4 linked regions of the Homo sapiens genome follow. The protein of the gene in region 4 interacts with the protein of the main gene of each other region in a pairwise test. Each region holds a gene or a part of one and is shown on either strand. Other genes may lie near its edges.

The links.
Region 1: the proteins of FAM210B (region 4) and TFRC interact in binary tests that used the Homo sapiens proteins (3 or more experiments, as listed by UniProt).
Region 2: the proteins of FAM210B (region 4) and CNIH3 interact in binary tests that used the Homo sapiens proteins (3 or more experiments, as listed by UniProt).
Region 3: the proteins of FAM210B (region 4) and TF interact in binary tests that used the Homo sapiens proteins (3 or more experiments, as listed by UniProt).

What each region holds. Positions count from the first base shown.
Region 1 is NC_000003.12:196,079,071-196,085,963, forward strand, and holds the start of TFRC (transferrin receptor protein 1), read right to left. Parts: upstream 3,021-6,893; 5' UTR 2,973-3,020; exon of another isoform or gene 2,761-2,972; intron 1-2,760. UniProt on the Homo sapiens protein: Cellular uptake of iron occurs via receptor-mediated endocytosis of ligand-occupied transferrin receptor into specialized endosomes. Endosomal acidification leads to iron release.
Region 2 is NC_000001.11:224,611,482-224,619,325, reverse strand, and holds the start of CNIH3 (protein cornichon homolog 3), read right to left. Parts: upstream 3,010-7,844; 5' UTR 2,152-3,009; coding exon 2,071-2,151; intron 1-2,070. UniProt on the Homo sapiens protein: Regulates the trafficking and gating properties of AMPA-selective glutamate receptors (AMPARs).
Region 3 is NC_000003.12:133,756,382-133,763,405, forward strand, and holds part of TF (serotransferrin isoform 1 precursor), read left to right. Parts: intron 1-449; coding exon 450-628; intron 629-1,387; coding exon 1,388-1,565; intron 1,566-2,793; coding exon 2,794-2,948; intron 2,949-7,024. UniProt on the Homo sapiens protein: Transferrins are iron binding transport proteins which can bind two Fe(3+) ions in association with the binding of an anion, usually bicarbonate.
Region 4 is NC_000020.11:56,361,950-56,368,973, reverse strand, and holds the end of FAM210B (protein FAM210B, mitochondrial), read right to left. Parts: intron 3,888-7,024; coding exon 3,712-3,887; intron 2,904-3,711; coding exon 2,687-2,903; 3' UTR 311-2,686; downstream 1-310. UniProt on the Homo sapiens protein: Plays a role in erythroid differentiation. Involved in cell proliferation and tumor cell growth suppression. Involved in the metabolic reprogramming of cancer cells in a PDK4-dependent manner.

The sequences.
Region 1 (6,893 bases), on a different chromosome or scaffold from region 4:
GGAAATCGAAGGCGTGAGCCACTGCGCCCAGCCAGAAGCACAATCTTTTGCCCCTTCTGTTACAAAAAGCTTATCACTACCACTCCACCAGAACAGTAAGGACCCAATCATTAGAGCCAGAACTGGAAGGCCCCACCCTGAACCAATTTTAATCATCCTTTTCTAGGAAAAAACATCTTGCAAGTTTTAACACTCATCTGAACCATCATTCCTCAAGTTTTCTTGTTTTAAATTAATTTTAAGAACACAAAGCGATGGCCGGGCATGGTGGCTCACGCCTGTAATCCCAGCAACACTTTGGGAGGCCGAGGCGAGCAGATCACCTGAGGTTGAGAGTTTGAGACTAGCCTGACCAAACATGGAGAAATCCCATCTCTACCAAAAAAATACAAAATTAGCCGGGCATGGTGGCGCATGCCTGTAATCCCAGCTACTGGGGAGGCTGAGGCAGGAGAATCACTTGAACCTGGGGGAGGTGGAGGTTGCAGGGAGCCGAGATCACACCATTGCACTACAGCCTGGGCAACAAGCGTGAAACTCTGTCAAAAATAAATAAATAAATAATAATCTAAGCTACTTGTGTTATCTTTGGTGTTCTCAATGGTGACTGAAAACAACAATTCAATTTCTCACATTAATAATGAAGCTCAGGTAGGCAAAACGTAGCCCCACGTTTTGAACCATGAAATGGAACACATTCACTGCCTAACAACTTCACTACCCTCTATTTTCTCCAAAATCAGACAGAATCCAGCCCCTGTTTTTACCCACCAACATTCTTCTCTGTTCCTTGAGGTCCTCCTCATTTCTTCCAGGCTCAGCTCAAGGCTTCATCTCTATGAAGCCTTCTCTGACTGACTTCCCTATCCTGTAATAACTGGTATTGAACTACCTGATAATGAGTAAAAATATTGTCTTTAACAGTACTGGGGCATGCCTGATGCATGAGATTCCAAATGATATGAAAAATATAATGAAAACATTGGACCAGGAATCTTTTCCCGTCCCCATCACTCTTCTGGTTTAGTAGGGAGTTTTTTTGTTGTTGTTTTTGAGATGGCATCTCGCTGTCGCGCAGGCTGGAGTGCAGTAGCACGATCTCAGCTCACTACAACCTCTGCCTCCCAGGTTAAAGCGACTCTCGAGCCTCAGCCTCCTGAGTGGCTGGGATTACAGGTGTGCACCACCATGCCCAGCTAATTTTTGTATTTTTCGTAGAGACGGGGTTTCACCATGTTGGCCAGGCTAGTCTCGAACTCCTCACCACAAGTGATCCACCTGCCTCGGCCTCCCAAAGTGCTGGAATTACAGACGTGAGCCACCATGCCCGGCTAATTTTTGTGTTTTTAGTAGAGACAGGATTTCACCATGTTAGTCAGACTGGACTCGAACTCCTGACCTTAGGTGATCCGCCTGCCTTGGCCTCCCAAAGTGCTGGGATTACAGGCGGGAGCCAATGCGCCCAGCCGAGGGTCATTTTTAACTAGCATTGTGATCGATTCAGGTTTAGCTGGGAATCTTGCTCCATGACATTTAAATACATTATCAGAGGCAAGTAACTGCCTCGCCTTAGGGCGGAGTTAGCCAAACTGCTGTCTATCTAACAATCTTCAACACAGGCTAGGTTTACAGCCACCATTACTTGATAAGAACATCCAAAGGAAATTGAAGGATGCTATGCTATATATAACCTTGCAAAATCGATGACAAAAATTATCTTAACTCTGAGTTTTCTTGAGAAGCATATTGTAACCCAAAATTCAGGGCCGGGGGGCGGGGGGAACCAGCAGGGTCCACAAGTACTCTAGACAGCCTAACCTTAATTTTCACAGTAAGCTTAGCATATAAGCATGGGGTAGCCAAATACAATTTCCTACTTTAATCCTCTTATCAACGGGGAAGAAAATGGAAAAAGCTGCAGAATCCAGTCCCCCGGGTAAGTGAGGTCTCTACAAGCAGTAAGCAGAGGGAAAGCGTTATCCGAAAAGAGCCGAATCAGAATGTATTTTCTTACCCACCCTCCCAACCTTAAAAGAACTGTCCAGCAGAATGTGACACAATCGGCCTCTCCGGCGCCCATCAATCCAGCACAGCCCTCTGACCACACCGCTAATCTCCAAGTATCTTTCACAAATAAGTCACTCCTATGGCTCCCGTCTTGTAGTGAGAACTGCTAGCAATATTCTTAATGTGAACACCTGCGGCGTTCAGTCGGATTCTGCCTTGAGAAAACAGAATCCACACACAAGGCGAACAGGCAGAGCATGGCAAGATCAGGTTGTACCAGAGCCGAAGGGTAAGTTTACAGAAACCCGTATCTAATTAATGCCTGTAACACGCTAGTAACCGAATCGGGGACAGCTTTGTCCCTTTCCGCAGTGAGAACGGGGCCCGCCCGGAGCCCGGGGAACCGAAGGTTTAGGAGCCCAAGGTCACCCACGAATCCCAGCCGTTCCCTGGGGCGACTTCCTGGAGCAGCCACGTGTTCCCCCGGCGCCGCACGCCGCGCAGCTGCACCTTGGCTGCGCCCGCGCTCCCGGACCCGCAGCCCGGAGCCGGCGCACTAGGGCCTGCGGCCTTCAAGGGCGAGGACCCGAAGTCCCCGGGGCTGAGAGCGACAGTGGGGGTACACCTGGTCTCGTCATTCGTCGCTCTGTGACCGAGGAGGCGGGCAAGAAGGCAGAGAGAAGGGAAGGGACGAGAGGCGAAGGGACGAGAGGCGCAGGGACGCCTCTGCGCACAGCCGCCGACCCCGTGTACCTGCAGCCGCTCGAGGCGCCGCCACAGCCCCTTCCCCACAGGCTCGCGGCCCCGCTCCATCCCGGCCGCCCCGCCTGGGGCCGCGACCGCTTTCCCGCTCCCCGTGCGGCTCCCTATGGCTGCTGGACAGCACCGGAGCGGCCGCTCCAGCCAGCCCCGCAGGATGAAGGGAGGACACGAGGGTCGGTGTAGTTCTAGAAGCCCGCACTCACACTAGCGCGTCCTCCGTCCCGAGCCGCCACCCGATATCCCGACGCTCTGAGGGGATGGCGGCCCCTAACCGGCGGTTTATAGCCTGGCCCCGCCCCCGGCCCCCAGGGGGGCTGTGCGTCACTTCCTGAGGCACGTACGCTCGCGAGGTGCTCTGACAGATCGCCCGGGGGGCGGGGATGCGCGCGCAGCGGGCGGGGCCCTATGCGGAGGGCGCTGCGGGCGAGGCGAAGGCCAAGGGAAAAGGCGCCAAGGCAGCAGGTGCCCCGAGGAGCCGCGCGATGGGCGCACTGGCCTCTGCCTCGGCGCCTTCCTCCACCCTGGTAGCCTGGCAGCCTCCGCCTGACCTTGACCAACCTCCAGTCCCTGCAGTGCTAGGTCCAATCTGTTGGCGTTGACGCTTAAATGTTGGATATTGCACTGCGGCAGTGCCTTGAAATGTACGTGCAGGATGGAATGTTAGGTAACTATTAAAGCCACTCTTGTGAAGATGTATTTTGCAGCCTCAGAAATACAAAAAGGAAAAGAAAAGCAAAATGCAAATTTTTATTCAGAATGTATACAAGCTGCACTTTAACCAAGACTAGCGGAGTGCTTTGCGTAATGTTTAATGCATGAGGGAATAAAAGGGAAAATAGAAACAAGTGACTTAATAGGGTGATAGGATTGTAGATTAACTTTCGTTTTCATTGCCATCGCTGTTATTGGATTGTGCAATGAATAACAAATAAATAAAATTCAATTCTTGTCACTGTTTAAACTCTTTCCAAACAATCACACCCTCTCCCTCCCTCTGGTCAGTAACCAGCAGGCCAGGGAGGTAGTAGCTACAATGCAAGAAAGCAACCCATACCTTAAAAAGCATTGCACATAAACTGACCTTCAGGCCCGTAGGGACACAGAACAGCCCTTTAAGAAGCAAATCCGTTTCTGGGCCTTGGGCTTTTACTCTTCCCTTTATTTCTTCTGCTCTAAGATAGAGAAAGTACTTGGGATTCTCACCGCCTTTCTCTTTACTCCCATTCTCTAAAATCTCTCTCCCCAAAGAGAAGTGTTTAAAAGTCATATGAGTTGCCAGGCGCGGTGGCTCACGCCTGCAATCCTAACACTTTGGGAGGCCGAGGTGAGCGGATCACGAGGTCTGGAGTTCGAGACCAGCCTGACCAATATGGTGAAACCCCATCTCTACTAAAAAAATTTCAAAAAAAATTAGCCAGGCATAGTGGCACGCGCCTGTAATCCCAGCTACTCAGGAGGCTGAGGCAGAAGAATCGCTTGAACCCAAGAGGCGGAGGTTGCAGTGAGCCAAGATCGCGCCATTGCACTCCAACCTGGGCGACAGAGCAAGATTCCATCTCAAAAAAAAAAAAAAGTCATATGAGCAGGAGCATTGCTGCACCTTTAATGATCTAATCAGGAAAAGGTTAAGGATGCACATCCACAGAGGGCCTACCTTAACATTCAGACACCAGGCCTGCTCCCCTGTGGTGTTCCTTCTTTATTTCTTTAATTATTAATTTTATTTATTTTTATTATTTTTACTTTTAAGACAGTGTCTTGCTCTGTCACCCTGGCTGGAGTACAGTGGCATGATCTCGGGCTCACTGCAACCTCTGCCTCCGGATTCAAGCGATTCTCCTGCCTCAGCCTCCCAAGTAGCTGGGACTACAGGTGTGTGCCACCATGCCAGGCTAATTTTTGTATTTTGAGGAGTGACGGGATTTTATCATGTTGGCCAGGCTTGTCTCGAATTCCTGACCTCAGGTGATCTGCCCACCTTGGCCTCCTAAAATGTTGGGATAACAGGCATGAGCCACCATGCCCAGCCTATTTATTTTTTATTTTTAATTTGACGCAGGGTTTGCTATGTAGCCCAGACTAGTCTTGAACTCCTGGGCTCAAACAATCCTCCTGCCTCCGGTCTCCCAAAGTGCTGGGATTATAGGCATGAGCTAACATGCCTGGCTTTCTGCCTTTCCTTGACTGAAGTATCTTTTAAAAAGAAACAAACAATGCTGGTATTTGCAGGTGAAAATCTTATAGCCTCATGGAGGACATAGGTTTAGGTGGCCAGATGCGATGGCTAATCCCTGTAATCCCAACACTTTGGGAGACTGAGGCAGGTGGATCTTCTGAGGTCAGGAGTTCAAGACCAGCCTGGCCAGCATGATAAAACCCCATCACAACTAAAAATACAAAATTTAGTCTGGCGTGGTGGCGCACACCTGTAGTCCCAGCTACTCCAGAGGCTGAGGCAGGAGAATCGTTTGAACCCGGGAGGGGGGTGGCTGCAGTGAGCTGAGATCACACCACTGCCCTTCAGCCTGGGCAGCAGAGCAAGACTCTGTCTCAAAAAAAAAAAAAAAAAAGAAAGAAAGAAAGAAAAGAAAAGAAAGAAAAATATGTTTAGGAGACATTTAGAGGCCAGGACCATTTGGACATGAAAATTCAAATCTCAAAAATTTATATTCACTAAAATAAAACCATAAACGTGACACTAAAGAGGCTATCAATTATATTTTTATTTTTATGCTGTTATTAGTATTAATAGACACTGCAATTAAAGTCCACTTATTAACACTTTTACTATTTATTTATTTATTTTTAAACAGTCTTACTCTGTCACCCAGGCTGGAGTGCAGTGGCGCCATCTCGGCTCAATGCAACCTCCACCTGGGTTCAAGCGATTCTCCTGCCTCAGCCTCCCGAGTAGCTGGGATTACAGGCACGTGCCACCACGCATGGCTAATTTTTTGTATTTTTAATAGAGACGGGGTTTCTCCATGTTGGCCAGGCTGGTCGTGAACTCCTGCCCTCATGATCTGCCTGCCTTGGCCTCCCAAAGTGCTGGGATTACAGGCGTGAGCCACCGAGCCTGGCCAAATTATTCGAAATTATTATTGGAAATTATTTAATTTCCAACCCTCCACAAACTATTCCATGAGGCTTACCTCATCCTGGAACTAAAACTCTTGCAGTTCTTCTGCATCGTACACAGAAATACGAGAAGTTTCATAAAGGGAAGGAGGTTGGCAAGGAAAAAGATACCATGAGCTGTGGGGAAAAGAAAAGAGCACAAAGCCTGGAGGGCCAAGAAGCTGGAGTTCTCAACTTTCCTGAGCCTGGGTTGTACCAGCTCTAAAATGGGAATAAAGGCTGGGCACGGTGGCTCACACGTCTAATCTCAGCACTTTGGGAGGCTGAGGCGGGCGTATCATTTGAGGTCAAGAGTTCGAGACCAGCCTAACCAATGTGGTGAAACCCCATCTCTACTGAAAATACGAAAATTAGCCGGGTGTGGTGGCAGGCACCTGTAATCCCAGCTACTCAGTAGGCTGAGGCAGGAGAATCGCTTGAACCCGGGAGGCAGAGGGTGCAGTGAGCTGAGATTGTGCCACTGCACTCCAGGCTGAGAGACACAGCAAGACTCCTTCTCAAAAAATAAAATGGGAATAAAAATACCTCATTCCAAAAATACCTCTTTTAGGGTCTAGAAGACCCTAAAAGCAATGACTGGCACATCATACACTGTTGGTCAGCATGGTTGAATCAGAGTCCTCGTGGGGCGGAGTGGGGTCAGGTAGGAACGTGACGTGGAAGATGTCTGCAGACTGGGATGGATGTGGGCTCATGAAGAGGAAGGATGAAGGCATTTCAGCAGAGGAGAACCGGCCACCTGAAGGCTCTGTAGTGAGAAGGAGCCTGTGGTGTGTGTTAAAATTCCTAAGGAGATGTCTGACAGCTAATTCAGGGGAATTACTGCTGGAAACAACAGTGCAGGATGATTAACGGCAAAATTCTGCCTCCCTCTCTTTTTTCTTCACCAAGAGATGAAAGCAGAAGTCTTGCTTTTTGGTGAGAGAGAACTGGCAGGAAAAGCAAACCAGATAAGCCACTTACCTAGTGAAAGAGCCCCAGCTGGC
Region 2 (7,844 bases), on a different chromosome or scaffold from region 4:
GAGAAGCTGGAGGATAGAGCCAGTGCTGGATGAGGGAACACCTGATTTTCATTCAAATGTCAACCAGCTGCACAAACCACTCAATGAAGCTGTTCTTGAATTATTAATCATCTTTCCCTGAATGAGAGAAAATGATTCTTTCTGGTTACTTGCTCTGCTTCAGGGACCAATTCAGAGAACTCCAAGCCAGACTCGAGTTTGAGGGAGCTCTCTGGTACCTGACACCCTCTGGCCAAGGCAAAAACAGAAAACAGCAAATGAAGTATTGCAGAAGAAAAGGGAGTAGTTGGCCTTCTAGAATCCAAGTAACTCCCCATATCCAAAGAAGCTGAGAAAGTTCCTTTAAAGCACATTAGCAGAGGTTTGCTGCACTGCTTGGGCATGATCTAATCTGTATTCCTTTCTATTCTAAATCAGGTAAGTTTCCTTTTCCCTTAAGAACTGTCAACAACTTCAAGCCTCAATTTTCTACTATAGATTAGACCCAGCCTTGCAGAGCAGAGAAGGGAGGGTTTAAAATCCCATTACTTCTAAATAGCGGAATTGTTTTAATCATCCCCCAAATATCTATGTTTGGATTCCCTGTCACCCCCAGATTCCTAAGTCTACTGATGCACGGATTTACACAATCTGAGAAATGGGGGAAAGCTTAGCGACTATCCAGGTCAATTTTCTCACTTTAGAGATGTGGAAGGAAGCCAGCAAGGGTCTTTCCTAAGGTTACATGATCGGAAGCCACCTTCCTCCCCGAGTTTCCCCTCTCCTCTCTGTCAGAGCCCTGTAGCAGGAGCTGCTCTAGCTGCTTAGTTCTATTTTAAGACAAACTCTCACTCTGCAAACCACTTATAGAAAACAAGGGCATCTCACCCACCCTGCAATTTTCTCCACGTCTTCATTTTGGGTCATCCCCACTGTATGAGAGTCTGTGATGCTCACCAGAACCATGCCTCCAAGAATTCGTCTCAGGGTCCTTCTCTGTCACCTAGACGCTGGGCAGGGCAAGGCTGTTAAAGGTGGGAAATTATGCACTGGGGTGCTCCTTCTAAACATTTGGCCTTGGCCATTCTTCCCACCAGCCCTCTGAGGGTGAGGATAGGGGGCTTAAACAACCTCAGAGAAGGAAGCCTTGAGAGTTGCATGCACTCGCTAAATGTTGCACAGTCTTTGAGAGGACCGGCGTACGCACTCCTGCGCGCTCTCTCAGTACTTCTCTTCCCCTATTCAGAAGCTTGCGCTCCTCTATTCCCACCCACACCTAAAGAACTGGGATCCACGGCTGCCCTCCACCTGGCGTAGCCCCGGGAAGGGTGACAGGAAGCTTGTGTGGGCTGGGGACGCTGGGGGCCTAGCGGAGGTTCGCCACCTGCAGGGGGTCTTCAGGAGTCGGACTTCAGACGCCAAGAGGGCAGATGGAGGACACCGTCGTCGCTCTCCACGGTCTCTCTTCGTGACTTTCCTCCATGGCCTTAATGATGCCTGCCCTTCCCAGTCTCCCTCGCCTCCTTGCTCTTCTCCTTCTCGCCTTTCCCCCACCGCCTTCCACTTCGACCCCCATCGCCTGGTCTCCTTCCTCTCCGTGGGCTCGGCTTCTCCCTACCTCTTACAAGGCGCTCCCGTCGTGTTTCCACTTTGTCTCCAATTATATCTAAATGCAACCCACCACAGATGCTGACATTTTAAATGTTTAGTTATTATAGCTACTTGACTAATTGCCGGGACCGACGGCGGCGCTTCTCCTTCGCCTCCCGCCGGCAGGAGAGGACGGGGCGGGAGAGGAAGGGGTTAGTTGTGGTTGTAGCCGCCACTCCCCGGCGCCCGGGACCCGGGACGCCCAGTCGGGCCCTGCAGAGGGTGTCCTACCTGGGCACCAGCGGCCCCTCGCCTCCAGCCAGGGCACCGAAGGCGCGCCCGGCGGGATGCAGCGAACTGCCTCCTGCCCCGGGACAGTGGAGCGGCAGAAGGTCCAACCTTCCGGTTCGCCCACGCCCGCAAGGTGGAAAAAGTGGGGTGAAATCGGGGAAATTTAGCGAAATTGGGGCGAAAGAAGAGAGACCAAAGCGTGTTACTCACGTGCCAGATGGCGAAGAAGATGAGCGCAGCGCACAGCACCAGAGACAGCATGTAGCAGAACGCAGCGAAAGTGAAGGCCATGGCCGGCGGACCCCAATCCCACCACACACGCCAAGAAGCCCCTAGGAGCCCGATGCCTCCCTAGAGGACCGCACTCCCTCCAAGGAGCCGCGTCTGCACGCTCCTCTCCAGGCTAGTGCCCAGGAGGGCGCACAGCTAGCGAAGCGACTCGAGGGTCAGCGAATAAGCGCTGGATTCCCGCAGGCTCCGGCGACCCCAGACCCGGCCCTCCGGCGAAGACAGGAAAACGTGTGTCGAGAGTCGCTGGAGGGAACCGTCCGCAAATCGAAGAAGAAACCAAATCAGCAGCGAACACCTGCAAATTAGTGCCAAGCTGTGAGCCCCTCGAGACCAACACGACAAGCGATGCGACGACTCCACGGAGGACCGAGGGAGGAGGTCCCATTCGCCCCAGGAAGAGCTCTCTGCTTTTCTCCACTAAACCGCTGAGGAGAGACGAGCGCTCCGCTCCGGACCCTCCCGCGCCACCGGGGCGCAAACGGATAGTGTCCAGCGAGGTGCCCGAGCGGCCTCCGAGCTCCTCCCAAATCCCAGAGCCGGGCAGCGCTCTTTCCCGAGAGAAGGAGTCTTTAGGTAGCCGGGAGGAGGTAGGTCCCGTTGGTCCTGCGCCCCAGACGCGGCTTCCAGCGCAGCCGTGCGCTCCGAGGCGCGCCCGTCCCCAACCGTGACTCCGGCCAGCCGGCCTCCGCAACCCAAGTGTCCCGGAAACCGGGGGTCGGACCGGGGCGAGCACTGGCTCCACCCAACGGGCCAACTCCAGCCCGGGTGGCTGCAGCAGTGGGTTTCAGGCCAAACGCTGTAGCTCGCTCCACCTGCTGCTGCCGCTGCCGCCGCCGCCGCCGCCGCCTTTGCCACTGCGAGAACTGTAGCGGTGCGACCCGGGATTCCCTCCTCTCGGCGCCCCACCCTCGACTCCTGTTCCGCTGAGCGCGCCCTCCCCGGCGGGCGGAGACTGCAGCGCCGGGGGCTGAGGAAAGGTGGGTGGCGAAGCGCCGCCGGGCGCTTGGTGGCCGCTGCCGCCGCCACTGCAGCTGTGCACGCCCGCCTCTCGGAGGAAACTTGAAGCCAGCAGTACAAGCAGGGCTGGAGGCCGAGCGGAGGTGGGGCGGGACCGGTTGGAGCAGGGACTCTTTAAACACGTGCGTCTGGAGGAGGTGGGAAGCTGCGGAAGGGTATGGTGTGTGCCTCGCGCCTAAACGCCGCAGCCGCCCCTCCCGGTTCTTGCAGTTTCGCCTATCGGAGTGGGAAGTGTGGGGACTTGGGGCGTTGCCTAGTGTTGGTTGGGGATACAGTGCAAGCCTTGGATCCCAAAGCTGCTTGGATGGATTTTACCAAACTGTAGCATACTCAGTGCTTAGGGCTGCGTTTACTGCTCTGCTCCCAGACCCTGCAAAATTCTCCATTAACGTCCTTCCGTTGCATCCTCTACCCTCCCCAGCCATCCGACCTTGGGACTAGGGAAACGTGGACTTGGTGGGCTATTCTGCGCTGAAGAGGCAGCAACGAGGGCTCGGTGGTATTGGTGTTGGTCCTAGTGGAATTGTCAAGAGGATGCTTTTGAAGGTAGACCGTTTTCTAGCTGCAAGTTACCTAACCTCTTTAATCCTTAGTTTCCTTATCAGAAAAACATAAATAAGAGTAGAGTCAAGCCATTTCAAAGGATTAAAAGGGAACATAAGTAAAAAACCTAGCACTTGGTATACGTTCAATAAGTGGTAGGGATTATTAATTGCACCCTTTCCCCCAGTGGCCCAGCATCTTGGAAGTTCACCATGCTTGCTTTGCAAGAGATTCCTGACGCTGCAGTGAAAGAGGTCCAGTCATTCCAGAGAGAACTTCAGTTTCAGACAAGTCATCAAATCCAGAAAGCAAGGAAAAATACCCTGAAAGACGACTGGCAAATCTCGGTGAAAGAGTAGACGCACTTCATGGATTGGAGTGAATCTTAGAGCACCTGGTACCTTGCACAGGGTGGGAACTAGATAAATAACTATTGCTTGATTCTGACTCTGGTGTGCTAGTTTTCCTGTTCACAGATGTGATTCCAATGCCTTGAGAGCTGGAAGGGATGAATTCCAGCAAGATAGAGATACAGCTTTCTAGTGACAGAACTGGAATCCTGTCTGCGGACTCCTAATCCTGGGCTCTTTCTACTATGCCCCAACATTCCTGCAGCTATTTGGCCACATCTTTTACTTATTTATTTATTTATTTATTTATTTATTTATTTATTTATTTGACGGAGTCTCACTTTGTCGCCAGGCTGGAGTGCAGTGGCGTGATCTCTGCAACCTCCACCTCCCTGGTTCAAGCGATTCTCCTGCCTTAGCCTCCCGAGTAGCTGGGACTACAGGCACGCACCACCACGCCCAGCTAATCTTTGTATTTTTAGTAAAGACGGGGTTTCACCATGTTGGCCAAGATGGTCTCGATCTCTTGACCTCGTGATCTACCCACCTCGGCCTCCCAAAGTGCTGGGATTACAGGCGTGAGCCACCGCTCCAGGCCCTTCAATTTATTTTATTTTATTTTTTTGAAGACAGTCTTGCTGTGTTGCCCAGGCTGGAGTGCAGTGGTGCTATCATAGCTCACTGTAGCCTCAAACTCCTTGCTAGGACTACAGGCATGCACCACCACACCCAGATAATTTTTGTTTTGTTTTGTTTGCAGACATAGGTCTCAATATATGGCCAGGCTGGTCCCAAACTCCTGGCCTCAAGCAGTCTTCCAGCCTTGGCCTCCCAAAGCGCTGGGATTATAGGTGTGCACCACAGTGCCTGGCCTCATATCTCCCTCCAGTTTAGAAACTAGATGCCTTTCAGTGAGAAGTGGAGAAATTAGAGCAAATCCAGAGGCTGATGACCAGAGCAATGAACCGATCTACATTTTATTGCCTCTGGGTCAGGACCGGCTACATACTTTGGAGGGCCAAGTGCAAAATGAAAATGTGGGACTTTGTATTAGGCCGTTCTTGCATTGCTATAAAGAAATACCTGGCCAGGCATGGTGGTTTATGCCTGTAATCCCAGTACTTGGGGAGGTCGAGGTGGGCAGATCACCTGAGCTTAGGTATTTGAGACCAGCCTGGACAACATGGCAGAAACCCCATCTCTACAAAAAATACAAAAATTAGCCGGGTGTGGTGGCATGCACCTGTAGTCCCAGCTTCTTGCAGGGCTAAGGTGAGAGTGTTGCTTGAGCCCAGGAGGTCAAGGGTGCAGTGAGCTGTGTTCATACCACTGCACTCCAGCCTAGGCAATAGAGCCAGACCCTGTCTCAAAAAAAAAAAACAAAAACCTGAGGCTGGGTACTTTATAAAGAAAACAGGTTCAATTGGCTCACCGTTCTGCAGGCTGTACAAGCACGGCACCAGCATTTGCTCGGCTTCGGGGGAGGCCTCAGGGTTGCTTTTATTCATGGTAGAAGGTGAAGCAGGAGCAGGCATGTCACATGGCAAAAGCAAGAGCAAGAGAGTGTTGTGGAGAAGTGCCACACACGTGTAAATAACCAGATCTTGTGAGAACACTCTCTTTATTGCGAGGACAGCACCAAGCCATGAGGGATCCACCCCCATGACCCAGACACCTCCCACCAGGCCCCACCTCCAACACTGGGGATGACATTTCAACATGAGATTTGGGCAGGGACAAATAACCCAAACTATATCAAGCTTCTTGATTAAAAATTAATAATTTCAAGACAGCAACAGCAGAACATTAAGCCAAGCATGAGGCCCTTCTGAGCACAAGACCCTGGACAGCTGTAGAAGTTGAATGCCTACAAATCTAGCCCTGCTCTGGGTTATACCCTATGTTGCTTTCTCTTTTACAGAAGTATTTCTTCCAGTATAAATTGTCATTAAAGAAAATTTGGAGGTCAGGCACTGTGGCTCATGCCTGTAATCTCAGCACTTTGGGAGGCTGAGGCGGGTGGATCACTTGAGGTCAGGAGTTCGCGATCATCTTGGGCAACATAATTAAGACCCGGTCTCTACAAAAATGAAAATAAAATTAGCCAGGCATGGTGGTGCACACCTGTAGTCTCAGCTACTCAGGAGGCTGAGGCCAGAGGATTGCTTGAGCCCAAGAGGTCAAGGCACAGTGAGCTGTGATCATGCCACTGCACCCCACCTCGGGTGACAAAGCGAGAGCCTGTCTCAAAAATATAAAATAATTTGGAAAATATAAAAATGAAAAAGATAAACACCACAGTTTGCTGCTCTCAGATACCACCAACACAATCCTGGTGTATTTCTTTCTAGCTGTTTTTTTGCTTTTTATTTTATATAGATCATTTCTTTTCATTGTAGTAATTGTACTGTATAAAATTTCGTGACACCAAAATTCTGAGTCCCTTTGGGACCTCTCTGATCTTTTGTTTCTGCTGGTTCTTGTTTACGGAGTCCTCGCTTCTTATCCATCTAGTAGATTTTTACTGTGCCAAACTTGTTTTGAAAAGTTTTCTTACAGTCATTTGAGGCCTAAAATTATGTTATCTTTCTCCAGGGAGGATTTTCAACTTCTTTTGCCAGGTATCTAGGGGAACCTAGTGCTCCAGGATTACCTTAATCCAAATTCAGCATTTGAGATTTTCCAGGATGACCAAGATAACTGTGGTCTGTGTGAGGGCTGCTTTATTTCTGGTTCAGCCTTACTCACATGGAGCTGTCCTTCTGGATCCCAAGTCAAAACACAGGGCTTATCAAGTCCCAACCCTTGATGGTCCTTGGACTCTGACTTTTGCCCCTAGCGCCACAGAGTACTAAAGGCATAGCTCAGTCTCCTCCTCAAGATTAAGAAATGCCCCTAAAAGCATACCTCAGCCACCTCCTCAAGATTAAGAAATGCCCCTAGAAAAAAAAACTGGCCCCAAGAGCTAAACCAACCCCTCTAGATTCTGAATCACTCTCAGCTTTTGACCCCAGTAATTCCGTACTCTCTTATTAGGTCTTTGATGCTTTCAAGAAGATGTTACTGTATTTCATTCAGCTTTATAAGTTGTGCTCAGTGGGAGAACCGGTCTGAATTCACTAGCACAGCATCACCAGAACCAAGAGTCTCTACATCAAAATAAAATTTCAAATTTAAAAATGGAATCCATTATCCTACCACTGTGACTTTCAAGTCTCCATCCAGCCACTGTTTTTCTTGCCATTTACCTGGTCCTGCTTTGCCTTGTTTTATTAGTTACAGAACAATATCTCGGCAAAGGTTACTGCAAAACTTCAGAAAATAAGAACCCCAGGCAGTTACTGCTCGTTATTTCAAAATATTTTAGTGTCCATAGTTCTGGGCGCTGTCAGGGATCCACAAGGTTTCTAGTCTAATTGGTGAGGCGGTAATTCCTTCACAAGGCAGTGTTTAAAAAAATCAAAAAGTACTAGTGACACAGTAGAGGAAGGCAAGGGAGATGGTGATTGGGAATGGATGTTGAGTGGAGTGACCAACCTACATTGTTTTCTCTACTGTAGACATTGAAAAGCCAATTACTTGATTTTTTTCCCCACCCACCATGCAGCCAGGAGAGGCCATATGACACAGTTTGAACTCTTTAGATAATATTTCTTTTTGCCTGAAATGCAGACCTGATGCCTGGAGGTACAGCAGCCATCTTGTGACCATAAGGAGGAAATCAACGCATTAAGAAGGGAAAAGCTAAGAAGATACAGAGAGCAGGGACCACTGACAACATGA
Region 3 (7,024 bases), on a different chromosome or scaffold from region 4:
GTGTTCTTTTTCTGTGTTCCCTTTTTCATGCTCAGTAATTGGAAATGAGCATACTGTATTTCTCCTTTATCATTGCCTGGGTTTCCACCTGTGCAGAGTTAGGTACCTACGGGGTCCCCATCTGGATTCCTGGGCCTCTTTCCATCATTCAATCTCTCCACACGGTGCCTCTGCCTCTGGGGTAGTGTTGCCATAACCAAAGACTGGGGGTTGGTGCTGCTAAGATCAGGCTCATGGTGGAATGAGGAGCAATCACTGCTACATGGGCATCAGAAGCCTTTACCTGGCTGTGGGCTCTTGAGCGAGTCATTCTCCCGCATGTTCTCTGGCCTTCAGTGCTCACTCCAGACCTCTCAGCTCATACTTTCTATGATCAATTGAATTTCAAGGATGGGCACCACAGCCCATGGCTCTCCTGTGTTAAGCTCACCTGGGCTTTCCCTCCCCAGAGAACTTGGCAAACAAGGCTGACAGGGACCAGTATGAGCTGCTTTGCCTGGACAACACCCGGAAGCCGGTAGATGAATACAAGGACTGCCACTTGGCCCAGGTCCCTTCTCATACCGTCGTGGCCCGAAGTATGGGCGGCAAGGAGGACTTGATCTGGGAGCTTCTCAACCAGGCCCAGGTATCCCCACCTGCCATCCTCCCCTCCAGCTTAGTGCTCCCTGCTTGGATTTGGGGGTTTTCCTCCTGGCCATCTTGTCACTCTGGAAGTCTGTGTGTTCAGGATACAGTGGGAGCCATGCCACATGTCACTAAGTTCTCTAAAAGCTGGGACTCCCCACAGAGCAGCAGGGAGCCTGCTGTGGTGCTACCGTCTGCCGCCCTTGCCTTTCTGGCTGGTGACACCTGAAGAGGCTCTGTATTGCTCTGTTGCATTCCTTTCTACCTAAACTTCAAGGCCCAAAGCTAAACCCCTCCCCAAGGAGGCTTTCCATGACCCTCCCAGAAGGAAATGGTCTCTCTCCCCATGCCCCTCAGCCCGGCTGTGAGGGGGCTGCCTGCACAGCGGCTTTACTTCCCAAGAGCTGTGTGATTTGGGCTCAGCCAGCTTCCTCTTGCCGAGCCGTCCCATCTGTCCACTGAGAGTTTGACTGGTAACCACACAGGGCAGCCTCTGGATTAGCCACGTTTCTTGTTCTCACCGATGTCTCAACCCGTTCCGGGAGACAGGCACAGAAGCAGGTTCAGGCAAATCGCGGACCCACGAGGGCTACAGGCAGAGGAAGTGCTGGGTGAGCAGGAGCAGGTCCGACTGCCCTCTCTCCTGGCATCTTGAACTTTTTCATGTTGTTTCCTGCAGAGATTTCTTTTCTCTTCAGTCCCATTTCTCAGCCTCCTTTCTTCTGTGTTGCCATCCACTATTCTGTTTTTCTATGAACAGGAACATTTTGGCAAAGACAAATCAAAAGAATTCCAACTATTCAGCTCTCCTCATGGGAAGGACCTGCTGTTTAAGGACTCTGCCCACGGGTTTTTAAAAGTCCCCCCCAGGATGGATGCCAAGATGTACCTGGGCTATGAGTATGTCACTGCCATCCGGAATCTACGGGAAGGCACATGTGAGTACCTGGGAAGAACCAGGTGACCACAAGCACTTGGGAAACCTGGTGAGCACAGGGGCCAGAGATTGAGTCTTTTCAGGGACCTGCACGCCTCTCCTGATGCTCCTTTTTCTGACCTGTCTGTGAGCCCAGTGTTAGACTGATGCTGAATGGCGTTAGTCATTATGAGATGGCCTTGATGTCACCATGGGCTTTACAGGAAATCCACATTTAAAATGACGTGGGTTGGTTCCAGTATTTCCTTTGCATCAATCAGGACTGCCTTACCTACTCTGTGAAGGCAATTAGCTTATCACAGAGTAAGTGAAATAGAACAAAATTGCTATATATTGCACATCTCCAGCCAGTCAACATGTACCATAATGAAGAGGTGCTCTAAGAGAGGTTGATCCCAGTCCTGGATTTCACTGAGTCACTGTGGTTTTGCTTGACCATTCATTTATTCAGCAGACATTTATTGAACATCTAGCCATATGCTCTGCTAGGTGCTGGACATAGGATGGCATGACAAATATATATTTGATTCTGTTGTCCTGGAAATTTCAAACTGGGGAGAAGATAAATGTTTAATGAATAGTCATGCTATTGGATGATGAATTACAAAGTAAGAGATATGTTTAAAAGGGGAAAAATATGACAACAAAATACCATGGCCCTATGAGACTGCAAAACAAAGAAAAATAGGCCCTGGACTTGGCGTTAAGGCAAAGCTTCCTTGAGGAAGTGACTCTTGAGCTCAGTCTGAAAGATGAGCAGATGTACATTTATTCATCAGACATTTATTATGCTGACCATGTGCTAGCATTGCCCTAACCCTGAGGATGCCCTGGTGAACAAGACAGGCAGGGCCCTTTCTGTGTTGGAGCTTCTGTTCTCCTGCAGAAAACCTGACAATAAACAATGAACATATAAATAAGAACACCTCCAGTAGTTAAGTGCTATCTGAAAAACAAGAAGGAAAAAAACAGCCAGAGGTCATATAGTGCCCAGAGGCTGGAGAGGAAAGTTGGCTTCTCGGAAGACATAAAAAACTAAATTTAAATGAGAAGTCAACCAAGAGATTGTGCATTGACTTTGCTTTCTAAGGTGATTAATTCCTTGAATGGGGTCTGTTTGTTTATTGCTGGCAAATCCCAGCATTTGCATGAAGACAGTGAGTAGTGCTGACAAACACCAGGCAACAGCTAGGGCCGCTTCTGATCTTTGTTCTTTTTTTATGCCATAGGCCCAGAAGCCCCAACAGATGAATGCAAGCCTGTGAAGTGGTGTGCGCTGAGCCACCACGAGAGGCTCAAGTGTGATGAGTGGAGTGTTAACAGTGTAGGGAAAATAGAGTGTGTATCAGCAGAGACCACCGAAGACTGCATCGCCAAGATCATGGTATGTCACTCCAGCCTTCCTAGGGCAGCGTCCCTGTCATTGCTGCCTGCTGGCCCCCAAGACTGAGCTAGGGAGTGTTCCTGGGAATGATGCAAAAACCTGGCTCCCAGGAACCTTGCCCTGACTATGTGAGCACAGCCCCACCGGAGGTTCAGAATCTTTGAGCTTGTGGATCTGAAGGGTGCCCACAGGGCTCAGTTTCCTCCTTGTATGAGTGTATGGTGAAAGGGCAGGCTGAGCAGTGCCTGCTTAGGGAGGCTGGACCATGGTGTGGGTGTCCTGAGACCAGTGGTGTGCCACGATCACTGAGATAAGATCCTGAGTACATGGTAGGATCCAATCAGGTACAAATTTGCTTTGTTGATCAAAAGAGTATCCTAGCCTGGCATGGTGGCATGCACCTGTAGTCCCAGCTACTTCGAAAGCTGAGGCAGGAGGATTGCTTGAGCCCAGGAGTTCAGGGCTAGCAACTTAGCAGGACCTTGTCTCTAACAACATTTTTTTTTTAAGAAAGAATATTCCATGTTGGCTTACAGAGAATTTTTAAAATCCTGAATGATATAAAGAAGAAATAAAAAGTACTTATAATCATGTAATTCAGAGAAAATTCCCTTATTGGGATCATTTCATGTAGGTTGCTTGCTACCTTTTACTCACTCACAGTATCTAGTAAGCTTTTCCCATATCATAAATCATTCTTGTAAAACCTAATCTGGAGCTTCTGTGTTAGTGCACACATCGAGATGGGGGAGTATGGTTTGCCTAGAGAGAACATGAAGTGCCAAGCTCCACTCCCCCTCCTCCCCACATTTCTTGCCCTCTGTGTCTCTTCCATTTGGCTATTCTTGAGTTGGATCCTTTATAATAAATCAGCAAATATATTGAAACAAAGATGCATATTATAAAGGTACTTCCTGCCATTGTCAACAGATTTTTGCTGAAATATGTTAATTCTACTTTTTGAGCACTTATGAATAACCATGTATCTTCAGAACTATCTACCATGAAGCAAAAAGGGACCATCAAGCTCATTATTTTATATTTCATACAATTTATAGATATCACTTTATGCTATTTTAACATATATTCCATTTTAATTTTTGTCTGAGTCAAGACAAGAAAAACCAAACTAAGTTAAAGCAAAGCCTACAAATTCAAAACCTGAGTCTATACAAATCTGTTAGCAGTTTGAGTGGCTGGGCTTCAATATTATACTCTGGATGTGATACAATAGATAAAGTTTTTTACGTCTGTAAAAAAAAGGAAGAGCAAAAGACTCTTGGGAACATGTGAAATCTTAAATGAAGATTAAGTACAACCAAATGTAAACATATTTTAAAAGGTTCTTCTTGGACATCATAATTTGCTCTCCTATGAAGATGTCATCGTTTGAGCCTTTAATGTTGGAAATAGCTTACAGATGTTGGGGCAGAAACCAAAGACCAACATTGCCATGTTCTGTGAGACCACGTCCAAGTGGATGATTGCTGGATAGGTATGTTTCATGCATAACATTTAGTTCATAAAATTATATGCTACTTTAGGAGGTCCAGGGCCCATGGATTAATGAAACAAAAGTAACTAATCTCATTGCTAGTAAAGAATTATTGGAAACAAAGTTGAAAGACATAGTTTATTTGGTCCCACACCTGTGACACATCATCACTGTCAATGGGAAGCCACTGACCTGTCCCAATTTCCCAAGGTTGTTATCATGGACATCATGGCTGCAGTAGAAAGTGAAGGTGAGTGTGGAAAACAGATCCCAAAGTGACCAGTGCCCTCGGTTATTGCAGTAATCATGTTCATGAGTAGACACACAGGACTTCCAAAGGGAGTCATCATCTCGCATAGAAACATCATTACTGGTATTACTGGGATGGCAGAAAGGATTCCCAGACTGGAGGAGGAAGATGACTACATTGGATATTTACCTGTGGCCCATGTTCTAGAATTAAGCTTTGAGCTTCTTTGTTTTTCTCATGGATGCCTGCTTGGCTCCTCTTCACCCCAGACTTCAGTGGATCAGTCTTTAAAAGTAAAAAATGGGCTGCCCACTGTGGCATGCAGCTGTAGTACCAGCTACTCAGGAGGCTAAGGTAGGAGGATTGCTTGAGCCCAGGAGTTTGAGTCCAGCCTGGGAAACATAGTGAGACACCATCTCAAAAAAATAAAAAATAAAAAAATAAAAACCAGAAGCAAAGGGTGTACTTCTGGGTTGAGACCAACACTGATGGCAGCTGTTCTGGAAATCATGGATCAGATCTACCAAAATGTCATGAATTAAGTGTATGAAATCAGTAGTCTTCAACACAATCTGTTTATTCTGGCTTATAATTATAAAATGGAACACATTTCAAAAGAGCATAGTACTGGATTGTGTGACAGCTTTGTTTTCTGGAAACTGTGAAGCTAGCTAGGTGGAAATATTCAGCTTTTATTGTATGAAAGTGCTCCACTTTCTGCAACACGCAGCAAGTTCATGAATACAGACTCACTGAACCTACAGGGGCTGGAACAATTACAGATGTGTGGATTACAAGACTGGCAGAAGTGAGAGTCCCATTAGTTTGCTGTGAAATTAAATTAAAGAACTGGGAGGAAGGTGGATACTTTAATACTGAAAAACCACATCCCAGAGGTAGAATTCTTATCGGTGGCTAAAATGTGACAATGGGATGCTACAGAAATGAAGCAGAAACAAAAGCTGATTTATTTGAAGATGGAAATGGACAGAAGTGATTATGTCCTAGAGATGCTGAAGAGTTTGATGGTTGTTTACAGATGATCGATCATAAAAAGGACCTTGTAAAACTACAGGCAGGAGACTATGTTTCCCTTGGGAAAGTAGAGCCAACTCTGAAGAATCTCCCAGTAATAGATGACGTTTGTGCATTTGCAAACAGTTAATTGTTCTTATGTCATTGGATTTGTTGTGCCAAATCAAAAGGAACTAACAGAACTAACTTGAAAGAAAGGACTTACAGGAACTTGAGAGTAGCTCTCTAACAGTTGTGAAACAGAAGATGAGGTGCAGTAGTCCCCCTTTATGTGAGGTTTCGCTTTCTTGGGTTATACCTACAGTCAACCGTGGTCCAAAAATGTTAAGATATTTTGAGAGAGAGAGAGAGCACATTAACATAACTTTTATTATAGTATGTTATAATTGTTTTATTATTGTTGTTGTTAATCTCTTACTGTGCCTAATTTATAAACTTTATCATAGGCTTGTATGTATAGGAAATAAACATTGTATAGGGTTTCAGGTTCCAAGACTGGGGGTCTTGGAACATATCCCTTGAGGATAAGAGGGGACTACCATACGTAAAGTACTTTCTGAAGCTGCTATTTGGGCGTGTCTGAAAAAGTTTGAAAATCTATTAAAAATTGGTTTGAGCCCTGACCCATGAATCCTGAAACTGGTCTGGTGACAGGTGCCTTCAAGCTAAAACACAAAGAATTTAATACACATTACCAGGCAGACTCTGAGCGAATGTGTGGAAGAAATGATTTTTCTCTTTTGGCATCAGTTTGCTACAGTGAGCTCAAATCAAATAGGAAATTATTTGAAATGCATGTTTCAAACTGTGAGGCAAACTCCATTCTTCATATTCAACCTAGATTTTTACTTCTTAAGACATCACCATTTTCAACAGACAGGATTAGTAAAATAGTAGGAGAGCAAACTTGTGTCTGTCTTTTTCCTTTTCCCCTCCTACAACTACCTTTACCTAACCTGTGACTGTATTGTCAGTATAAGGAGTTTTCTGAATCATAGTGAGGAAGCAGATTTCTAAAACCTCAAGTTTCTAAACATGACCTATATATTCAGTTTATGTTTAAAGTTTGGATGTGTAGAGGGAGTTATGGAAAATATATAAAGTGGCTGTTGGGGGGTGCTTTTTAACTTACAGTATTAAAAAAATGCAAGGCTATTGATGTGAAATTACATACATTTCAAATGCTTATGAATCAAATCATTATTGAGGATAATATTTGCTGATGTGTAATTACTATCTTGCATGAATTAAGAGAAATAAATATAGCCATACTTACGTTTTAAAGAAAAAAATGAT
Region 4 (7,024 bases):
TAGTCTTGAGCTGAACTGACTTTGACCTTCCCAAATAGTTCATGTGCCACCCTCCCAAGCTATAGTTATTATCACGTGACTGACTTTCCCAGTGACACCAGTGAGACTTGGGACGTTTCCCCAGACAATCCCACACAAGCAAAGAAAAAGCTCATTGTAGTAGCACATTAATACACTGGTCACAGTGCCACTTCATCATCAGCAACAACCATGGCTTACCAGAAGGAATATAAAAAAGTTCATAAACTATAAAGATGTTTCACAGAATTTAAGCTGCTCACTTTGTCAGATAAATTAGAGAAACAATGGCTTTCATTTTTAAAATAGATGTTTTATTCTGCTAGTTCCATAAAAACAATGTAAACACAGGCGTTCTGTACATCTTGCTGGTGAATTCACATAATGCTTAGTTCCCTGATCCTTTGACCTCCTTGTCTTCTCCGGTTATTTTCTGTTTGGACCCCTGGCCACAGGAGTGGAGTGGGGTTGGGGCTTAGGAGAGAGCAATGTGGCTTTTTGGTATGATTTGTTTTATTGCTTGCCCGCTCAGCACGCTCCTGTTACTCCTAACAAAGTTTGAGATTTAAGCCCTTAAACCTGTAGGTTTCACCATCAGTTTTTCTTTTTTTTCTTTTTTTTTTTTTGCATAGGCATTACTAGGGACATAAATGGGAGACTGGCATAGAAAGTGGTGAGGAGCCGAAGCCAAGGAATTGCTTTAAACACAAGATGAAAATACTCTGTTCTGTCCAAAGCATCACCTAATGGTGTGAGGCATCTCACTTAGCTGTGGAGAAGTCCTTGGAATTAGATCTCAGAAAGACAGCTTTAAGACAGTAAAACCTTTTGGCAATGGGCTAATTGCCTTAAAAGAAGAGTTCTACCTGAAAGACCTTGCAGGTGGAGAAATTGTCCTACAAAGATTCTTGGATATGTTAGTGGAGATAACTGACATGGGTAGCTGTGGGTCAACCAGGAACTGTCAACAACCTGATCTCTGCAAAACCAGGATGGCCAGTTAATGGTTTATTCAGTTCTCTGATGGTCACAAATGTAATTTTATTTAGCCTTGTGGAGGTTCTGCAACAAATGTAATTTTAAAGGAATTAGGAGCCAGAAAGATAAATGCAACTCCTTCAACTACGTGACAGGGCAGACTGGTGAATCTGGGTTCCCAGAGTGTGGAGCAAGTGCCCTGCATCAGAGAATGGCCCAGGGGGAACGTGCATGATGCTGAACCCCGCAGGACAGAATTACTTCAATCGCCTGCTCCTGACTACTATAAGGACGAAGCCTCAGTGTCTCAGTTTGGATCTACGCTGGGATTTCTTTCTTTTGGAGACAGTGTCTCCCTCTGTCGCCCAGGCTGGAGTGCAGTGGTGTGATCTTGGCTCACTGCAACCTCCACCTCCTGGGTTCAAGCAATGCTGCCTCAGCCTCCCCAGTAGCTGGGACTACAGGCGTGTGCCACCACACCCGGCTAATTTTTGTATTTGTAGTAGAGACGGGGTTTCATCATGTTGGCCAGGCTGGTCTCGAACTCCTGGCCTCAAGTGACACGCCTGCCTCAACCTCCCAAAGTGCTGGGATTACAGGCGTGAGCCACCGCACCTGGCCTCTATGCTCGAATTTCTACTCTTAGCTAATCTCTCTAACACATATGCCCTTCATTGGGTAAAGCTGGCTCAGCAGACTAATTACACCTGTCATGTAATACAAGCCTCTCCCTGGCTTGTATTATCTCATGGTTGCCTTCTATTTGTGACAAGTGCTATGAATATTCCTTTTTAAGAAGTGATACAAAATCTTTTTTTTTCTTGAACAGGATTTTTAACTCAGACAGTGTAAACATCATGACAATTCTGGAATGTCTGAAGTTTGAGATAGAAGATTGTCTAAGAAAAGCTGAGATTGTCTTAGCTGTTTGTGGTATCCGAATTCCTCTGGAACATGGGCATCAGGAACCAAGCGATGCCACTGCTACTGGGCAGGGTTTTTATATTTTACCTAAACAGAGACAAATGACGCTGACCTACCTTAATGAAATTTCAGAAAAACCATCTGGAATCAGCCCCATCATGTCCAGATTGGAAGGTATCTGGGGATCAATGAAACATACCAGAACTACTTTTCTTCCCCCAAACCAATGTAATGAATGTCAAAGTATTGATGCTAATTTAGATTGTGATTACATATTAAGTTTTGCTTCATTAATTGTAGCACTGGCAGCTGTTTTGTGAACGCTGCATATTAAACTGTAGGCAGCTGACAACAAATATCAGCGGAAGGGGATATTTAAAAGCCAGTTAAATTAATCAATGCTTTTTAGGAAACTGAGCCAAGATTAACCCCCTGGTGCTTTTACCCACAGACCCTCGCCAAAGTCTCCCACAAGGAACATTTGTAGGCTATTTTGTTTTGAGATGTTAACCCATCTCCGATGCCTTGCTGACATTTTAGATTATATATACAAGCCCTATAATGAATAGCATTCACAAAATTTATGAGGCAAAAAATTAAAATTGTTCAAAAGCCTGATTTTTGCTGGCAAAGTTTATCCATGAGAACATAGCAATTAGCCCCCTACCTCTCCAAAAGAAACCCTACAACCCTAAAACCCTAAAACCAATCCAAATCATGTAATTTAGAAGAAATAGGTTTTCAGTGTGTACGACTGAAGAGTTCATTAAGGTTTTGCAGCTGGAGGTTTAAAAAATCCCACTTTTCGAAAATATCTGACAATCAAGGGCACAGAGACTAGCGTAATGCTGATTCTCACTGGCGCAAACAGCTTGTGGATTGCATAGGCCACCACGAAGGTACTTGTGCCTGCTGCCATTTTTGACTGTACCAGGGACTCTTTAAATCCGAGTTTCAGCAGGATTGCAGGCATGTCCACACCACTAGGGGGGAAGAAGCAAAGAAAACAATTATTACAGCAAGGGATTAAATGAAGAAATTGATTTGGCTATAAGATTTACAGTATTTTAAAAAATGTAATGAAGTAGCTGAATGAATAAAAGTCTTAGTGGCCAGGTGCAGTGGCTCACGCCTGTAATCCTAGCACTTTGGGAGGCCGAGGTGGGAGGATCGCTTGAGCTCAGGAGTTCAAGACCAGCCTGGGCAGCATAGCAAGACTCTTGTCTCAACACAACAAAAAAACATACAATCGGCCTGACGCGGGGGCTCACACCTGTAATCTCAGCACTTTGGGAGGCCGAGGGGGCGGATCACTAGGTCAAGAGATTGAGACCATCCTGGCCAACAGGGTGAAACCCTGGCTCTACTAAAAAGACAAAAATTAGCCAGGCTTGGTGGCATGCGACTGTAGTCCCAGCTACTCGGGAGGCTGAGGCAGGAGAACCACTTGAACCCGGGAGGCAGAGCTTGCAGTGAGCCGAGATCACGCCACTGCACTCCAGTCTGGCAACAGAGCGAGAGTCCGTCCCCCAAAACAAACAAACAAACAAATCAGCTGGGTGCAGTGGTGCATGCCTGTAGTGTCAGCTACTTGGGAGGCTGAGGTGGGAGGATCACTTGAGCCCAGGGAGGTCGAGACTGCAGTGAGCTGTGATCATGCCACTGCACTCCAGCCTGGGCAGTGGAGTGAGACCCTGTCTTAAAAAAAAAGTCTTAGCAAACACGTTCTTATTCACATAGAATCTTACATGACAGTAAAAAACAAATATTAATTACTGTCAAAAATCTTACCTTGACACAACCATGTAAAATATGCCCAAGGAAATTAATGAGATTCCAATGTGCAATGACACGCCAACAGTGCCATACTCTTGAAAAATCTTTTTCAGTTGCTGTGACTTGCTTTGCTTTTTCTCCTCTGTGCAGCTGACGCTGCTGCCTGTTGTCCCCGTGGCCTGGCTGGGGTCCTGTGTACAAATCAGAGAAGAGGAGGTGCTTTAGGGCAGGCACGGGCAGTCATTACCGGCTTTTATACACGCATGCAATGTTATACTCTTTCCTGCTGGATGAGAGATCAGTTACCCCTTTCCTTTTTCTTTTGAGACAGAGTCTCACTCTGTCATCCAGGCTGGAGTGCAGTGGCATGATTGTGGCTCATTGCAACCTCCACCTCCCTGGTTCAAAGGATTCTTTTGCCTCAGCCTCTCAAGTAGCTGGGATTACAGGTGTGTGCCACCACACCCAGCTAATTTTTTGTATTTTTAGTAGAGATGGGGTTTCACTGTGTTAGCCAGGTTGGTCTTGATCTCCTGACCTGGTGATCCACCCGCCTTGGCCTCCCAAAGTGCTAGGATTACAGGCGTGGATCAGTTACCCCTTTCCTACTCAGTGAGCCGAGTTTGAGCCAACTTAGTCACTAAGTGCAATGCAAGCCTGGAACTAGGTATGGCTGGCAGAATGATGACTCCAAAGATGTCCCAATCCCAGGATCTGTGAATATGTCACCTTACATGGCAGAAGAACTTTGCAGATGTGATTAAGGGTCTTGAGATAGGGAGATGATCCCGGATTACCTGGGCTACATTATTACCAACGTCATCACAAGGGTCCTTATAAGTGAAGAGAGGGAGGCAGGAAACTCAGTGTCGGGGAGGGGGTTGTGAGGACAGAAGCAGAGTGAGAGAGCTGAAGATGCGGTGCTACTGGCTTATGGAGGCAAGGGCCATGAGCCAAGGAATGCAAGCGGCTTTAAGCTGGAAAAGGCAGGACATGGATTCGAGCCCCTAGAAGGACCCATCTCTGCTGAGACCTTGACTTTAGTGCATTAAGACCCATTTTGGACTTCTGACCTCTAGAAGTGTAAGATAATAAATGTGGATTGTTTTAAACCACCAGGTTATGTGCTCATCTGTTACAGCAGCAATAGTAACTAAAACACCAGGGCTCACAAGCTTGGGGACAATGATCCTTTATCAAGCATTTTCTCTGAGCCAGGTGGTCCTCCAACCCTTTCTCCTTCCATCCTCATGCCAACCTTCAGAGGTAGATACTACTGCTTTTCCCACTTTGCAAAGGAGCAACACAGGCTTGCTGAGGTGAGGTCATTGGCCTGATGTCACCAAGATTAGAACCCAGGCCCTCCAAGGCCACAGCCTGAGCATGTGACAACCATGTTATATGCCATCAAAAAAGGACGGTGCGCACAAAATTAATGCAGCAAAAGCGATGGCAGATTTACTCCTAGAATCAAGATTTACACCTGACATCTGAAACACACAAAGTGGGGGCGATTTTTGCACAGTGCCCTACCAGGACTTGTACAGAAATCATGGATTGCATGGGACATCTGCTAACAGTTACTGAGCACCTACCAAGCCTGGAATGTGTGGGAGAAACAAAAATACCAACCTCACCCACATTAGGGGAGGGAAAAAAACCACTTCTCAATAACAGAGCACTTTAATCAAAAGACTTCTCTAAGGACAGTCCTGGGGCTTGTCCCGGCAGGTGATGCGCACCTGGCTGGAGGTCAGCTCTTGTTATGGGCTCTGCAGCTGGCCCACTTTTACCCTGTTATTTTTAGAGGCATAAGATTTTTTAGAACATTTGAGGAAAACCCTCAGTGTCCCGATGACAGGTCCCTTCTGCTGAGCCAGGAGTTGAGCTTCCACTTCAAAGGCGTCATTTCATAAATCCCTCACTGCCTCATGACCCAGGAACCTTTGTCGCTCCTGTTTTGACAGATGGATGACTGAGGCTCAGGAGGGAGGGACGGCTAACTGGCAGCATGGACTGGTGACTGGGCTGGTGACCACCAGGCCTCAGCCTCTGTGGTACTCAGCAGGCTCCCCTTTCCTGTCCTGCCAGAATGACCATTCTTAAAGGAAGACACTTTTCCAGAATGTCCAGGCTCTGGAGGGGAGGAGGGAAGATGTCATCAGCCCCCCTTTCTTTGGCCAGCACATGTGACCTCCCGTTTCCTTGAAGCCTTCTGACTAGTCCTGCCACCCCCGGCCAGGATGGCTGTGGAGGGCATCGGTTCTTCCTGATAAACAAGCCCCACCCACCTCCAGCTGCTGAGGGAGGCTGCAGAGGGGACAGCAGCCAGGTGGTGGGGACTGATAGGAGGCCACCTACAGCCCCTCGCAGGGCCAAACACCCATGCCCTTGACACCTGGCCCCATTCTGTCCAATCACTGGACCGACTGCAGCTGTCTCTGCGAGGGCCCTCTTCTTTATAGTCTTTATTTTGGCAAAAGGACTTTTGGCCAAAAAATAAAAATAAAAAGGCAGCCAGGATTCCAGCTATAGAACTGAGCAGAATCTACTGCAAGACTGTGGTAGGGCCAAGACATTCAGACACAGGGACAATCTCGGGTTAGCTGGCACCACGGTTGGCTTCTGACATTCTAGAGAACACCCAGTTACTGGACAATTTTATTCCTTTTGTTTTGATAAAAACACCCATCTATAAGCACTGTGAGCCACGCATTTTTCTTCCTAACCTTTGGGGAGACTAAAGAAGCTGAAATAAAAGAATTTATGAGGGCGTGACTTGCAGGCAATGGAAAATTTTTAGACATTCATTTCTTCGTGAAACATTGCCGTAAGTACCCGGGATGTGTTAGGCACTGTCCTGAATGCACAGGACGGCGTGACACATCTTCTGTCTGTACTCAGCATGCATGCACATGTGTGTGAGAGTGTGTGTGAGACAGTGTGTGTGTGAGATGCCCCTTCTGCCTCTCCCCAACATTTTTTAAAGTACAAAAACCTGTAATAGAGAGGGGGTAGGAAGGTTTAAAGAATGAGCCAAGGACCTTGCCAAGCCGATCGCAGTGTTTGGAGTGACACCTGTTTTCTTCCACTTGAGAAATCATATTAATAATAAACACTATATTGTGTATATTCTGTACTAGGCACTGTTCTGAGTACTTTGAAAATATTGGCTGGGCACGGTGACTCATGCTTGTAATCCTAACACTTTGGGAAGCTGAGGTGTAGGAGGATTGCTTGAGGCCAGAAGTTCAAGACCAAGCTGGCCAACATATCTTTTATTTTATTATTTTATATTTTTGAGACAGATTCGTGCTCTGTCGTCCAG